Linked DNA regions of Homo sapiens: region 2 is linked to region 1. A link means that fine-mapping ties the variant in region 1 to the expression of a gene that starts in the linked region. Tissue or cell type: ovary. Region 1 holds a variant in brackets; the other region holds the start of a gene. All regions are shown on one strand. Distances are between the middles of the regions.

Region 1 (8,183 bases):
TTCATCAATAGGCCCCTGCTGTGGTCAGTGTGCAGATGACGCTAGTCCATTCAACGTAGAAAACAGACGCCTGACTTGCACATAGAGGCATCCTCAGGCCAGCTTCTGTTTCAAGATTGTTGGGGAAAATGCACATTTTAATCATATTTTGAATCAGAAATTCTCCCATTCAATACGCAATAGCTCTCTCTATAAAAATTCTAGTAAAATGCTTCGTGGCCTGGCACAGTGGCTCACGCCTGTAATTCCAGCACTTTGGGAGGCCAAGGCCAGAGGATTGCTGAGGCCAGGAGCTTGAGACCAGCCTGGCAACATAGCAAGACCCCATCTCTACAAAAAAAAAAGCTTTGAAATAACTATTACGGGAAGTTACACAAGTATTTGTTCATCTCTATCACCGTGGCTTCAAAGCAGATTGTGTCCACATCTGCTCCCCGATGGCCCTGGGATTCCCCGGCCCACAGTCACTCTCAGCACCCACGTCCCCCAATGGCCCTGGGATTTCAAGGCCAGCCACTCTCAGCACCCACGCCTCCTGATGGCCCTGGGATTCCCGCGCCCACAGCCGCTCTCAGCACCCGCGTCTCTACCTCCAGTTGTATCCTGAAGTTCATGGATCCCATCCACATTCTCCAGTGGCCAGTAATGGGAAGCAGACGCCAACACCTGAAATCCTTGGGGAAAAAAGAATAAAAATTTTAAATCATCATTAGAGAGGAAAGAACCAGAGGGTAAGAACCGCTTAGCACACACATTATGGGGGAAGAGTAAAAGGATCCCATGTCTGTGGGAGATACTGAAAGCATATTTAATAAAATTCAACACACACTCTTGGTTAGAAAAAGAAACTCTTAAATTAGAAGTTGGTAAATAGTTCCTTAACTGGACAAAACAGGGTAAATAGGAATAGATGCCTCTTGTTGCATGAAAACAGAAGCCACTGCATTTACTGGTGACACACTAGAAGCTTGCCCATTCATGTCAGGAAAAGATAAGAATGTTCCATATCCCGCTGTTATTTACCATTATTTTAGAGTTAATATCAATGCAATCACACTATAGAAACAAATAAGGGTAAAATCATTTTAAAAGAGGAGAAAACTAACATGAATGGTATGCCAGACACTGAGGTCCTTAACAAGCACTTCCTCACTTCATGCTAACAATAATCTATAAGAAAATTGAATTCTTAGCCTATTTGTAAAGACAGGAAATGAAAGTCTTGCACAAAATCACACTGCCAGCTCATTGTAGACGCAATACTCACTTTCTCAATTTAATCCTGGTCATTCTATTTTCCCTCTATGCTTCCTCCACACTAAGCATTACTCAGTTTGAAATTTCCTTCGTGATCCTTATACTTTGAGTAAACATAACTTTATGCAGGTATGTTATTTTCTATTCTGCTCTTCTCATTGAATGCTATATGAATTATTTCTTTGTTTCTATCTAACCCTCATAATTGAGTTTGGGTAACAGTCTCTTGAGTGGCTGCCCCATAACATGTTATGCCATTCTTCTGTTAATGAACAATCAATAGCTTCCATCCTTATTCGTACAGGTGGCGCTGACATGAGTGGCTTTATGCATACAATTTTAGTCTTCTCGGGGATTAGTCCTCTGGGATTCATTCACAGAAGTGGAAATAATGGTTCAGATGACTAAACAATAATCAACTGCCCCAAGCGACTGCTAGATCATAGAAAAGGACAGACTAATAGTCTCTATGTTAGTCCTTGTTTTTTTAAAAAAAATACTTTTTAAAGAGGAGATAATAAGATCATTATTTTCAAATGATGTATGCCTGATAACCAAAGTGGAAAACGATTACAAATAAGAAAAGAATTTCGTCAGTGAAACACTATTACAAACAACAAAAGAATTTAGCAAGGAGGCTTGTACAAATTTAATATACAAATGTCAATTGCTTTTCTGTATTCCAACAATAATGCTACAAAAAAAGAAGAGTTCTCCTAAGTGCAGCCAACAAAAAGAAAATATTTATGAAAACAAGAATAAGAATTGTACAAGATTTTCATGAAGAAAATAAAAAATAATAATTCTGAGGGATGTGAAAGCACCCTCGAATGCATGAAGGATTCAACCTATTCTTGGAAAAGCCGACTCAATGTCGTAAACTATACTTTAATCTATGAGTATTAGAAAATTTGTTGTAAAAATGCTGAGAGAATTTTGTGGGGGACATATCTGATTATGGAGTTTATATAAAAAATAAGAAAGAAAATCTGGAGAAGAAACAGAAGAGGATAAAGAGAGGAGATTCACACTCAATGATAAGGCACAGCATGAAACTACAATAAAGATGGCTGATTGTTACACGCGGATAGACAGTTCAGCGGGAGAAAAATCCACAAAGATGCCTAAGTACATATGGAAATTCAGTTTGTGATAAAGAGGGTCTTTTATTTTTTATTTACTTATTTATTTTTTGAGATAGAGCTTCGCTGTTGTTGCCCAGGCTGGAGTGCAATGGCGCGATCTCGGCTCACTGCAACCTCCGCCTCCTGGGTTCAAGCAATTCTCCTGCCTCAGCCTCCCAAGTAGCTGGGATTACAGGCACCGACCACCATGCCCGGCAATTTTTGTATTTTTAGTAGAGACGGGGTTTCACCATGTTGGCCGGGCTAGTCTCGAACTCCTGACCTCAGGTGATCCACCTGCCTCAGCCTCCCAAAATGCTGGGATTACAGGCGTGAGCCAACGCGCCTGGCCCCAAAGCTGGTCTTTTAAATTAGAGGAGAAATATTATTCAACAAAGACATTGGAACCAGTTCACCACATGGAAAAAATTAAGATCCCAACCTCACTCTTTATACCAGAACAATTTCCAGATAGATCAAAATTTACATGTAATAAAATAAAACAAAACACAATCAGAAAACAAAGTTTTCTGTGCATATTATATAATATGTATTATATAATACATATTACAGAAGGGTACTGATTTCTTTTTAGAGGTATTAAACGTATTATATTAGTACAACTCCTACTATTAAAAAGAACCAACCGAATATTGAGGCAAAGGAGATAATCAAATAGTTCAATGAAAAAGAAATAAAAATTACGTATAAATATATCAAGTGATGCCCAACCTTGCTCATAAGTTTAAAAAGTATATTAAACAACAATGAGCCTATCAGAGTTCACCCATCAGACTGGCAAGCAAAAAGTTAGCTATACTAAGCTGGCAACTTCCACCACATTTCTGATGGGAGTTCAAATCAGTACACCCCTTCTGAAGGGTAATTTGGCAGTATCTATCCCAATTTTAAGTGTACATTCCCTTTGATCTAGTAATTCCACCTCTAGGAATTTATTCTAGAGATACACTCATACATATGATCAAAGACCTCTGTGCAAGGCTTGTTTGTTGTAGAATTTTTTAATAGTATCAGAAACCTGAGAACAGCCTAAATGCTCATCTACAGAGCGCTGGCTAAATAAATATGGCACATCTACACTCTGGACTGGAATACAGCTGGGACGAATACTAAGGTTCATAAATGAACTTAGATGGCATATTCTTTCATTGATATTGTCTAATTTTTAAAAAGATGATAAAAATGTGTACACTATGAGCTATTTGTGTAAAATATAGTTGGTTCAGGGCAGGGATGGAGAGAGAAGAAGAGAGAGAGATGTCTGGAGAGATACTGCAGAAACCAATACTGCTGTTTTGGGAGTGAAGAAATCGAAAAGCTGAGTGCGAGATGTAAGAAGAAGATTTACATTGCATTATCTTTCTGTTCTATTTGAATTTGAATTTTTCTTTCTTTTTTTTTTTTTTTTTTTTTTTGAGACGGAGTCTGGCTCTGTCGCCCAGGCTGGAGTGCAGTGGCGCGATCTCGGCTCACTGCAAGCTCCGCCTCCCGGGTTCACGCCATTCTCCTGCCTCAGCTTCCCAAGTAGCTGGGACTACAGGCGCCCGCCACCACGCCTGGCTAATTTTTTGTATTTGTAGTAGAGATGGGGTTTCACTGTGTTAGCCAGCATGGTTTCGATCTCCTGACTTCGTGATCCGCCCGCCTCGGCCTCCCAAAGTGCTGGGATTACAGGCGTGAGCCACCGCGCCAGGCCTCTATTTGAATTTTTCAATCTGTATTCCTTTAGAAATATTTTAAGGCTTGCTTTCACAATTGAAGTGCCATAGGTAGTTATGAACATACCATCATTTTCAGATAACTGACGCACCCCATGTAATATCTGAATTTTTGTTCACAGGGCGCCCAACATCCACACGTGTCCTGTTCCTTGGTTCCACTTTTCAATTTGCATCTGTCCCTCCAGTTTTATGTACACAAGCTCAAAATGTAAGCCAGGAACAAAGTTAACTCTGTAATATGAGCTAAAGAGAAGTATCTAAACAATAACTTAAGTGTCTTGTTACTCTCTAAATAAAATAGCCCTATCTAGATAAAGTAGCACATTAGAAAGTAAGGCCTGACTTCAGTTGATTTCCAGTGGGGATAGTTCTACTATTGTAATGCAATA[T/C]GAAGAATCTGAAATGCAAAAATCAAAAAGATTCATTTTCATTCCCACTGTGCTTTTTTTCCCCCTAAAGTCTAGGATATTCATTTTGAAGAGGACAAAACCTCATTGACTTGTTATTCAAGTCATCTGGGAAAAAAAATTGTAAAAGGAAATAACATCTGTTATACAAAGAACAGATGTGTCTTCAGAATCCTCATCTTTATAAAATAAACCCTGTGGACGATAAAGCCCTTCCCATTCTTTCCATTTACAAATGGCCACAATCAGTCCTGGCAGAAAGGCTGACAGAGTAAAGTGATGGTGTCTCGTTCACCCCAAAGCCAGCCAGAGTTCATAGGTGGCCAGTGATGAGAAGAGCAGGGTTGAGGCCAGAACACTGCCTTCTCTCCACACCACTGCACTTCAGACAAGTGTAAAACACCTCAGTTGCCACAGATGTTTTGCAACTAGCAACACTGACTGGAAACAAGCAATGAAGGGGCTGCAAGCTGTGACACCCGCAGGGGACGGCGAGTCCTGAGAAGTGACTGGACAGAGTCCAGGGATGGCATCCAAGGTAGTTAACAAGCTGGAAGGCACAGGCCAGACTCATCAGAGCAGATGCTGGAAACCATCAGCTGGCACCACTGCAGTCGTAGGGCAGGAGAGGCGGAGGCGACGTGGAAAACTGTGCCCTGTCTAAATTAAGTAGTGCCTCCTGATGCCGAACGAAGCATTGCGGCTCTGCAGGAAGCTTTGCCCAGGATTGTCAGGTCTTCATTTTTTAAAGCAGAGTCAGAAATTCAGATTTTTTTTTAAAGCAAAATCTATCAAAATTTTAATGTTAGCAATTTTTTAAAATAAAACATTGTGTGGTGCTAATGGGATGGGCTGAATTCAGCCCACAGGTTCCTTTTCCAACTCAAGGAGTAAAATAACTCATAGTCCTACAAGTTTCATCAGAGCAAGAAAGTCTCATTCTTTCGGGAAAAAGGCACTCTGTGGCATTTTTCCCATTGAGAAGGTGGCATGAGACCACCTAACTCTGCAACCACCTTGATTTTCACCAAACTCTTCTAAAGACTAAACGTCTTCTTAGGCAGGTCAGCCAGCCAAGCAAAACCATGGCCCATTTGAGGACTCCAAAACAACCCCAGCCTGCAAAACAAGTAGCAGGGGACAGAGCCAGAGAGAAAATGGAGGAGGGGTGGGGAGGAAGAGAAAGAACGAGAGAGAGAGAGAGGAAAGGGCAGAGAGAAAAAGGGGTATTTTCAGCCCACATCACCACAGTTCTTCAGAAATAATTTATCATCCATATGTAATGTTTTATTAAGTTTGGTGTGTGCGTGTGTCAGAGACAGACATAGGAGAGAGATGAAAGACAGAGTATTAATACTCAAAACAACTTAATAAAACCTTTAATTTTTCCTTTTCCATTTTTCTTCCAGATTTCCCTATTCTTCTTCCTTCCCTGTTACTTACTCCTTGTGTGCGTTCAGGGAAACCTTTATCCCTTGGTTTCCTGCAGGGAAATAATCTTCAGTGTTGCACTGACTTGGTCCAGCTGGAATCTATATCACACAGAGGAATGCCGGCCCCTGCCGATGGTCGGGCTGGCTTCGTGGCTCCATCCTCCTTGGCCTCCAACACATGGAGCTCATTTTTCCTGCATAACTTTGCCTGCTGTTCCCACTGCCTGGAATGCTGATCCCCACGTTTTGTGTAGCTCATCCTGATTCAGGTCTCAGTTCACAGGACCCCTCCCCTCATGCCACCCCTTCGTCGCCACCACCATCCACTCTTTCTTTCAGGTCCTTATTTGGTTTTCTCATGGCATTTACTATTGTTTGGGATTTTTTTGTTAGTATATTTGTGTGTTGTCTCCTATATCAGACTCTGTTCCTTGAATGTTCTATTTACATTGTATCCTCCATGTCTAAGACAAGGGGCCCAGGAGGTGTGTGTGTATGTGTGTGTGTGTGTGAGAGAGAGATTTTTGCATTTGAAATCTCCCAAATTTTTAATGTTAGCAATTTAAAAACTAACTATACAGGTAGAATGAATGATAAAATGCAAAAATAAATAAATAAATCAATAAACATAGAATATAATTATCTGTATAATTCTAGTATTTAGAAAATCTCTATTTGCCAAATTTCCATTTCTTCAATCGGATATAAACATTGTTTTTTTAAAATTCTATTATAAATACTATGAAGATGAAGAATCCAGTTTCTGCCATGGCCTAGCAGTTCTGACAGTTCTTTAGAAACTCTAAGGCATGATGGAGATCTAAGGAATGATAATTACTGTAATTATCTGCTTGGCCTCCCAGACCCCTAAATAGAGCGGGTGAAGTGAGCCGCCCCAAACTTCTGGAAACGGCTGGAGCCAGCTGTGCCATGTGCCCCAGGACCAGGAAACTGCTGGGTAATGACATGCTTTGGGTTTGTTTTAAGTTCTCTTTTCCTCATTACAAATGTCATGTATAAAATGGCATGCTTATAAACTTTTTAAGAATGGCCTGCAATTTATTGGCCAGTGCCATTTATGGATTCAGATTAATCAACCATCACAGCTTCATAAGGCTGTCCCCTGGGGAGCAGAGGCAAGAAATTGGGCCGCCTGAGGCCCTGGAAAAGCTTCCAGATGTGGGGAGGGGCCCGGACTCTGCCGACCCTGGATTTCCCTCTCCAAACCTACCTCCTGGCTTCCCTGTAAAGTGAGAAGTGGCTCAATAGTCCCCACGGTCCCTCAACTACGACATTCTATAATGCCTCCAGAATGACCATCTATGGTCACAGATAAGCACAGAGTATGCAAAGGCTTAAAATGATTTCAAGTTGTTTGGCAATTACTTACAAAATGAAACACCTCTCTACATGGTAAAGATCTGGCAAATATCTGGCTACCTCTGCCAGTGTAGACAGGCAAACCAGGTAATACAAGCCAAAACAGCCACCTGTGAGCCGAATGCATGCTGGTTGGCTAGCTTTATTGACGCGGTTTACCAGATGACTAGCAAATCTTCAGTGACTGTGCACAGACAAGTCAATAAATATATAGATATTTTTTGAGACAGGGTCTCACTCTGTCACCAAGGCTGGAGTGCAGTGGTGTGATCACGGTTCACTGCAGCCTTAAACTTCTGGACTCAAGTGATCCTCCCACCTCAGCCTCCCAAGTAGCTGGGACTAGAGGCATGCACCACCATGCTCAGCTGAATGTTTATTTTTTATAAAGGTGGGGTCTCACTATGTTGCCCAGGCTGGTCTTGAATTCCTGGGCTCAAGTGATCCTCCTGGCTCAGGCTCCCAAAGTGCTGGGATTCCAGGAATGAGCCACTGCGCCAGCCCAACAAATATTTATTGCGTGTCTCCTATGCATAAGGCACAGTGCTGAGTGCCAGAATCAGAAAACAAGAAATGCTTAATAGTTCTGAGAACCTTTAACAAAATACTACAGTTTGGTGTGGCCGTGGTGGAAAGTAGGCTGGCGTTTGGAAGATCAGGCTCTCGCTCTATACTGGAGACTCCTCCTTAAGGCTCCCCCAGCACCTGAGCGAACCTATGTCCCGGTACTGACCACTCGGCTGCTGTTTTCCAAGAATCTCTGTCTGTGTCTGTCTCCCCTAATTCCCCTCACGCTGTGAGCTTCTTGGGCTTAATATTGTGTCCTCTGAGCCCTGTGAC
Region 2 (8,183 bases), 630 kb after region 1:
AGGATTTCATGTGGGCAGGGAGCAGACTGCTCAGGGTCCTGCAGACAGCTTGGATACTCAACACATGAGAAACCATCCAAGGTTCTACATAGGGGCAGGCGATGACATCATCTACCATCACTCTGCCTTAAATCACATTATCTTTTTCATCCTCTGAGTTTTAACAGCTTCTAAAATTCTTGGCTTCATGATCTTCACAGAAAGATAAATCTAATGCCATTTTTCAATTTTAAAAACCTCCGACTTCCTATTGTATTTTACAGGATTAAAGCAAATATTCATTGTATAAGACCCCTTACAATATGACTCTAAATCAGCAATTTCCAAAGGAGTTTACACAGGATAATCCGCTGAGGTGCCAGCATATTACAACTAATTTTAAATCTCATTTTAAACTGCTTTGTATTTATTTTATAATGTGCGCATCATGACAATGATTACGTATGCATGCTCGGCTTACACACGGGGCATACTGGCGCATGAAAGTCTCTTACTGATAATCTACAGGCAGCGTCCCCAGCAGCAGCAGCAGCACCACCACCACCACCACCAACCCCCCTCCCCCCACCCCCCCTCCCCCAACCACCACCACCAACCCCCACGCCCCATGGACCTGTACCGGAACCAGGCCACACAGCAGGAAGTGAGCCGCAGTGAGTGAGCAGGACAGCCTGAGCTCACCTCCTGTTAGATCAGTGGAGGCATTAGATTCTCCTAGGAGTGAGAACCCTACTGTGAAGTCGGCGTGCCAAGGGTCTGGGCTGCCTGCTCCTTATGAGAATCTAATGCCTGATAATCCGAGGTGGAACCGTTTCATCCCGAAACCATCCCTCACCGGTCCGTGGAAAAATTGTCTTCCAGGAAATCGGTCCCTGGTGCCAAAAAGACTGGGGACTGCTGATCTACAAATCAATCTGAAAGCATCCGCTTGAGACTCCAGCAAACACAACTTGCTTCCTATCACTATCAATTCCGTGACTCACCCTACACCGTGGCACACCCTCTGCTAACAAAGCCTCACCCTCCTCTGAAACCACAAGAATCCAGTGAACCGCTTAAGGACCAGCTCGCAGGCCATCCCTTGCTCCCTTCTCCGAAAGCCGTTTCCCCGGCGTGACCACGGTCACCCTACTACATGGTAACCTGTTTTCTCCCTCCCCACATCTCTGCACTCCATAGCTTCTCCAACTAGGCTGCGAATCACAATTGATGCCTTTGCACCCAGTCCGTCGCTTGACACCTTACAAACAACGGTGTGAAACAGTGATTAAAAAACAGTGACAAGCTGAACTCTCATCTCCAGCAGGAAATATTCCTAAAGCAGCACGTCAGTTCTCAAAGCCTGGTCCCTGACGGGCAGCATCTGGACTGGCTGGGAACAGAAATTACGGGGTGGGGAGCGGCTCTCAGCCCTCCCGAGTTAGAAGCCGACTGGAAGCAGCCCTCCAGCTGATTCTCATCATCTCCAGGGCCTGAAACCCACGGCGGCGCGCTGTGCTGGTCACTAAATACCTGGGGGGCTCAGCGCTCTACGTCCAGGTTTCCCAGCACAACTCTGGTTTTCAGCTTTATCTCCTTCCAGTTTCAAAACCACCTCAGTCTGGATATTGAATTCTTAAAGTCAGAAAGCAAGTGTGTGCTTCCAATAACCACACTCGCTGGAAATCACCTCTCCGATTCGCTACCAGCTCTGCCAAAGACGCTTCCACCTAACGTCCCTCCGGCGCTGAGCTCAGGACCACGCCGTGCACGTGGGAACCACCACCGCGCCACACGCCTAAAAACCGTTGAGCGGTACATTCTATGCGAGCGGGGTCTCTCTGGCCACAACTTAAAAACGAAAAGAAAAGCGCTCAGAGAACAGGCTGCGCAGGGGTGCAGCCGGCTTTGCCCTGGAGGCCGCCGGGGCTGAAGACGGCGAGAGCATCCATCCCAGGACGCCACCGCCCCGCCGCCCCTTTCCCTCCACAGGTGCCAAGGGCCGGGCCGCCAGCACCCGCGAGGACCCCCGGGCCTCGCAGAGCCCGGCCGTCGCGGTCGCCGCCTCACTTGGGGTCCTCCGGAGTTCCGTCCTCTTCCCAACGTCCGGCTCCCAAGGCTCCCGGGGGCGCAGCGCAGCGGCGGCGGACGCGGGAAGGGGCCCTCGCCCTCCGCAGAGATCGCGCCCCGCGGCCGCGTGGGTAGTGCGGGAGGTCCCGAAGGCCCTCCTGCAGAGCTCTCAGGTCCCCGCAGTCTCACGCACGGCCGCCAATGCGGAGACCTCCGCCCCCGCACCCCCGGCAACTCAGGCCTCAGCCTCTCACCCCGGCCCCTGCACCTGGGACCTCGCCCCCGCACCCCGGCCCCTGCACCCCCGCACCCCGGCCCTACAGCCCCGGCAAGTCGGGCCTCAGCGCTTCCCCCCGGCCCCGCACCCCCCACACCTGATACATCGCCCCCGCACCCCGGCCCCTGCACCCCAGGCTCCTGCATCTCCCAAACCTGGGACCTCGCCCCCGCACCCGGCTCCTGCATCCCCCGCACCTGGGACCTCGCCCCCGCACCCGGCTCCTGCATCTCCCACACCTGGGACCTCGCCCCCGCACCCGGCTCCTGCATCCCCCGCACCTGGGACCTCGCCCCCGCACCCGGCTCCTGCATCTCCCACACCTGGGACCTCGCCCCCGCACCCGGCTTCTGCATCTCCCGCACCTGGGACCTCGCCCCCGCACCCGGCTCCTGCATCTCCCACACCTGGGACCTCGCCCCCGCACCCGGCTCCTGCATCTCCCGCACCTGGGACCTCGCCCCCGCACCCGGCTCCTGCATCCCTTGCACCTGGGACCTCGCCCCCGCACCCGGCTCCTGCATCTCCCACACCTGGGACCTCGCCCCCGCACCCGGCTCCTGCATCTCCCGCACCTGGGACCTCGACCCCGCACCCGGCTCCTGCATCCCCCGCACCTGGGACCTCGCCCCCGCAACCCGGTCCCCGCACCTCGAGCCTCACCTCCACATCCCGGACCCCCAGCCGCCGCCCCCGCATCCCGGCCCCCGCACACCTAGCACCTCAGCCTGGCCCCGCACCTTGGACCGCTGCCCTCGCCCTAGTCCTGGTCCTTGCACCTCAGCCCGAGGCCAACAGCCCCAACGGCTCCCGCGGAGATCCCTCCGCGCCGCCGACCTCCCAGGACCTCCTTCGGCCCGCGCCCACCTCGCCTTCGGCGCTGGGTTCCCGAGAGAGCCAGGGACACGCGGGCAGCGAGCAACAGGCGCTCTTTTCCCGGGCGGATGAACACCGCCTCCCGGGCGCCGGCCTCGTGTCTGTACGCCATACGCCCAGTAACGGCGGAAAGCGGCGCGCGCCACGCCCTCATTGGCTGCCCCGCAAACGGCGGTTTCTGATGTGGCCGGGGCGGGACCAGAGGAGCCCCGCCCCACAGGCCCCGGCCCCGCCCCTCCAAGACCCCGTCTGGCCCCTCCCGGACACCCGGCACAGGCCCAACAAGCCAGGCCCGCCCCGCCCCACAGGCCCTGCCCCTGGCCCCCCAAGACACCGCCTGGCCCCGGACAGACACCCCGCACATGCCCTGGCCCCTCCCCATAGGCCCCGCCCCCATCCCGCCAAGACCCCGCCTGGCCCTGCCTAGACGCCACGCCCAGGCCCCCACAGGCCCCGCCCCCGCCCCACAGGCTCCGCCCCTGTCCCCCCAAGACCCCGCCTGGCCCCGCCCAGACACCCAACACGTGCCCTGCCCCCTCCCCACAGGCCCCGGCCAGCCCCACCCAGGCCCCGCCCTGTTCCTCTTCTGCTTCGCCCAGACCCCCGGCCTTCCCTGGCTTGACTCCTGCAGTTCCCCCAGTGCCAGCCCCCTGCAGGCGGACACGGGGTCGGGCCAGTTCCCTACTAGCTCGTGGAACTGGGCGGCGGCGCACGAAGTAGACCCTCCATAGACTTCGAAATGGTGCCCACGTGGGCACCGAGCGCCCTACTGTAGCAGTGGACTCGATCTTGGTCTGGCCTTTAACGTCGGAAGCTCTTTCACTCAGCACACAGAGATTTGAACTTTGACCCCAAAGAAAATAAAACTGCAATGCAAGTCTAAGGTGCCAGGAGGCCGTTACCTGGAAATTTAGCTTTCAATGACTTGTGCCTTGGGTGCATGCCAACGTGGACCGCAGGGGTTCTCAGCCTTCACCTGCGGGGGATCACCTGCAGGGCTGGTTAGGACACAGACCAGAGATTCCGGTCTGCAGGCTCCACAGGTGGGCCCCGCCGGCTGCATTTCCAAGGCATCGCAGGTGGTAGCGACCGGGTCTACGCCGAGCTAGGTGCCCTCCATAGGAGTTAATTTCCTCATGGAGGCAAAGTCAACAGCCACAAAACAACCGGAAATATTGTAAGATAGAACAGGTTTATTTGTCAAGGTGGAAGTGGGACTGAGGCTCACTAACTGCCTGACCTGTTATGTTCCATAACTATAAACATGATTGTAGGAGGTAGTAGAAATAGGGTCGCCTCTGCAGACAGGTTTTAAAACTGCATTTATACGGTAAACATAGTGCTTTTCCTTTTTTTTTTTTGTGAGACGGAGTCTCACTCTGTCGCCCAGGCTGGAGTGCAGTGGCAGGATCTTGGCTCACTGCAACCTCCGTCTCCCAGCCTCCTGAGTAGCTGCGACTACAGGCACCCACCACCATGCCCACATAATTTTGTGTTCTTTGTTTTGTTTTGAGACAGGGTCTGGCTCTGTCAGGCTGGAGTGCAATGGTGGGATCATGGCTCCCTGCAGCCTCGACCTCCTGGGCTCAGGTGATCCTCCTGCCTCAGCCTCCCCTGTAGCTGGTACTACAGGTGTGTGCCACCTGTAGTAATTTTTTTGTATTTCTTGTAGAAATACGAGAAATACACCCAGCTAATTTTTTTGTATTTCTTGTAGAAAGAGGGTTTCATCATGTTGCCCAGGCCGGTCTCAAACTTCTGGGCTCAAGTGATCCACCCATCTTGGCCTCCCAATGTGCAGGGATTACAGGCATAAGCCACAGAGCCCGGCCTACATATTGCTTATTATTCATACTTAAAAGCGCATGCCTGGGAATCGGGGGCTGGAGAGGGCTGAAGGCTCCCCAAGCCACCTTCCCAAATCCTACGTCTCATCTGTGCCATGAAAGGGGCAGGTTAGATGTCAGCGTTTCCCACACTAGCCTGAGTGTAAGCATCCACTGAGGGAACTTCCAAATAATACAGACTCCCAGATCACGCTGATTCCAGGAGGTCTGGGACGGGTGCAAGGAATTTCAAGAAGTAACATCAAGTTATTCTTATGCTCAGAGAAGGCTAATAAATTTGGGGCGAGGCCAAAAGGCGTTGGAAGCCAGTAGTTTGAAAGAAAAATAGCTTTCCAAAGGCTTTCGCTTTGTAAAAACTAAATGGTGCCTTTTGGAATACAATGTGAACATAACTTTTCCAAGGATTTAAGGTGTTGATGAGAAAGACATTCTGAGACCTGCCAGCAGATGGAGCCATAAAACAAGAAATAGATGTTTACAGCCTCAACTCGGGAGAAAAATACCGTGAATGCACCTTACACTATAGAAGTAACACTTTTCCCTCTGCTTTATTTTCTCTATATGCTAAACTCCTTACTTGCCTCTGCTAAAGAACATCGCTGGAGTGTCTTGGTGTGTGAAGTATGAAATAGTTTCTAAAGACATAAGTTGTGATATAGCAAGACAGAGGCAAAACCCCTCATTCTTCTGAGAGTGTAAACATCATGTCGCAAGAAGCTCACCTAAAATTTGAAAAGGAAAACTCAACGAAAATTTGAAAAGAAATTCAAGGAAAAAAAAATGTGACCTTTAAAATTTCCATGTTGACAGCACCACCAGGACCCCTTCTGGGATCCGTTGCTAGGTATAACTTCGTGCCTGACTCTGGAAGTTAAAAAATGAATAGTTACAGATTCTTTTTCCGGGAGCCGCCTCTAGAGGGGTGTACCCACCAGGGAAGGTGAGCAGAGTGCCACCAATCCTGTGGGTGCTCAGCGGGAGGTTGCTGAGGGATGCTTCGTGACTCAACGCTGCTGAAGCCCTGAAGGCTGATTTGGGTTTGCAGGGAACAGGAGGATCGGCATGGCGGAGCACGTTGGTCTGAGCACATGTGAGGTGTTTAGAAAACTGCAAGTCATCCAGCACGGGAGCAACGCCAGGCACAGGCAGGGGAGTCGTAGGGGATGATGCTGCAGAAGGGACAGACCGGGTTCTAGAAGTTGGCGAGCAAGGAAATGTGAGCATCTGGACTGCCGAACGCACCCTGTTAAGTGCTGTGAGTAAAACACACTCTGTCCTCCCATTGATGTGAATAAAACACACTCTGCCCTCCCGCTGATGGCCCAACAAGGGAAGCAGGGAGTGTGACAATTGGGAACGTGGATGCTGACCTGAAGGGCCAGTGGCTGCTTAGTCCTAGCCAGTTACCAGGAGAGAATGAGGGCTCAGATTTGCTGGGCCTCACATGATGGCTTTGGTTGTTGTTGTTGTTGTTTTTTTAATTGAGGTGAAATTCACATAACACTACATTAACTATTTTACAGTGAACAATTCCATGATATTTAATGCGTTCATAATGTTACGCAACCCCCCACCTCTAGTTCCAAAACATTTTCATCATCCCAAAATAAAACCGTCACTCTCCATCTCCCTCTTCCCCCCACTACCCTGGCAACCACGAATCTGCTTTCTGTCTCCTTTCCTGTTCATTTCATAGAAACGGGGTCATACACTAGGTGGCCGTTTGTGTCTGGCTTCTTTCACTCAGCGCCGTATTCTCAAGGCTCACCTACGTCGTAGCCCGTCAGAGCTTCCGTCCTCCTTACGGCTGGATCTTACTCTGCTGTTTGGACGGACCACATTTTGTTTATCCACTCATCCATTGGTGGACAGCTCAAACGTTTTTAAAGGGGAGCAGGAAACTTGGACATTTTCCGGTGCGTTTTTAGGAATGGCCACCAGTGCTCTCTAGTGTTGGGCAGAGGAGCATCCCAGGGAAGGGAAACAATGGAAGATACTCAGAGAACAGAAAAATCCCAAGTTACTTCATGTAAAGCTGAAAATATGATCTGGGTAGATTATGCTGGGGGTGACAGGGACTAGATGGAAAAGAAACTCATCATGAACCCTGCATGCTGTGTCCAGAGCTTTGGACTATATTCTGTAACCAATCAGTTTCCCAAGTTTTTAAAGCAGAAAACCACATACTCAGAGCAAGCTTTGACCTAGTTCCTTTCATTCAAGGATCTCAAAGCCCCTTTAAACCCATGATCCAGATTTTGTTTGTAAAGGAAGAGATGGAGTTGAAAAACAAGATCTAAGGCAGTTCCTATGAATCCCTTCAATGTAATTTTTCAGAGCATTTCCCTTCTCCCTTCAGACTCATGTCGTTCTGATTGGGCTGAATTGAAGAGCTGCCCAGCCTCTCCCCTGGCCCTGAGACCCCTGACCTAGAGGGACTAACTAGAGGGACGGCATGGCAATGGCAAGTGTACCCAAGACAGCATGCCCGGAGGTTTATCCAGGAATATTCATCCAGAGGGAAAGAGCAATGGGTGAGGCTGAAGTTCGTCTGTTCTCTTATATACAAAATGTGAACAAATCCTGAATATCACAGTCTGGCCACAAGGGGGATGTTTTGGGGTGGGCAGGGTGACGGAGGCAGGGGGTCCTGACTTGGCTCCCCAGGAAGTGGGTTCTGTTCTGTTCGCTTAAGCTCTCTGCATTCTTTTTTCCACGCTAGACGATGAGCATGTTGGACCAGATGGGCACGTGTCCAAGTGCACCCTATGGAATGTATCAGCATCGGCCTCGCCTGGAAGCCTGATAGAAATGCAGATTCCCAGGCCCTGCCCAGGCCTGCTGTATCCGGATCTCTTGGTGGTGGAGCCCAGGGATCTGCATGTCACGAGCTTGCTCAGAGTATCTGTGAACTGAGTTCAATCCACAGCCCTCTACTCCAATGCTAGCCAGACCCTGGGGCCATTGCCTCTCCCCCCACATGCCCCTCCATACTGTCAGCACCTCTGCATTGTGGCCTTTCTGCCACCCCCAACCGACTTGGGGATCCCAACCACCCACACCCAGGGGCCTGCACCAGACTGCAGAGTGTTGCCTGAGGGGACACAGTCCACAGTCATCCTTTTCTCCTCTCC

Evidence for each region. PIP is the estimated chance that this variant, and not a neighbour inherited with it, causes the effect. A credible set is the group of variants that fine-mapping cannot tell apart.
Region 2: it holds the start of PIWIL1, and the variant in region 1 is the best candidate, but not a certain one, in a credible set for the expression of PIWIL1 in ovary (GTEx, PIP 0.59).

The regions. Positions count from the first base shown.
Region 1 is chr12:130,958,954-130,967,136 of GRCh38, reverse strand. ADGRD1 (adhesion G protein-coupled receptor D1) reads right to left here. Exons shown (of 25, transcript NM_198827.5): 3 at 591-674. Among named protein-coding and RNA genes, the nearest start is that of ADGRD1, 9.1 kb to the right of the region's middle. RefSeq lists an enhancer at 8,119-8,183. The variant T/C (reference allele first, on the strand shown) is at 4,513.
Region 2 is chr12:130,333,030-130,341,212 of GRCh38, reverse strand. It overlaps PIWIL1 (piwi like RNA-mediated gene silencing 1), which reads right to left and starts at 3,326. Exons shown (of 21, transcript NM_004764.5): 1 at 3,067-3,326. LOC101927786 (a long non-coding RNA gene) reads left to right here and starts at 4,973. Exons shown (of 3, transcript XR_242978.5): 1 at 4,973-6,304; 2 at 7,409-7,583; 3 at 7,772-8,183. RefSeq lists an enhancer at 6,033-6,202.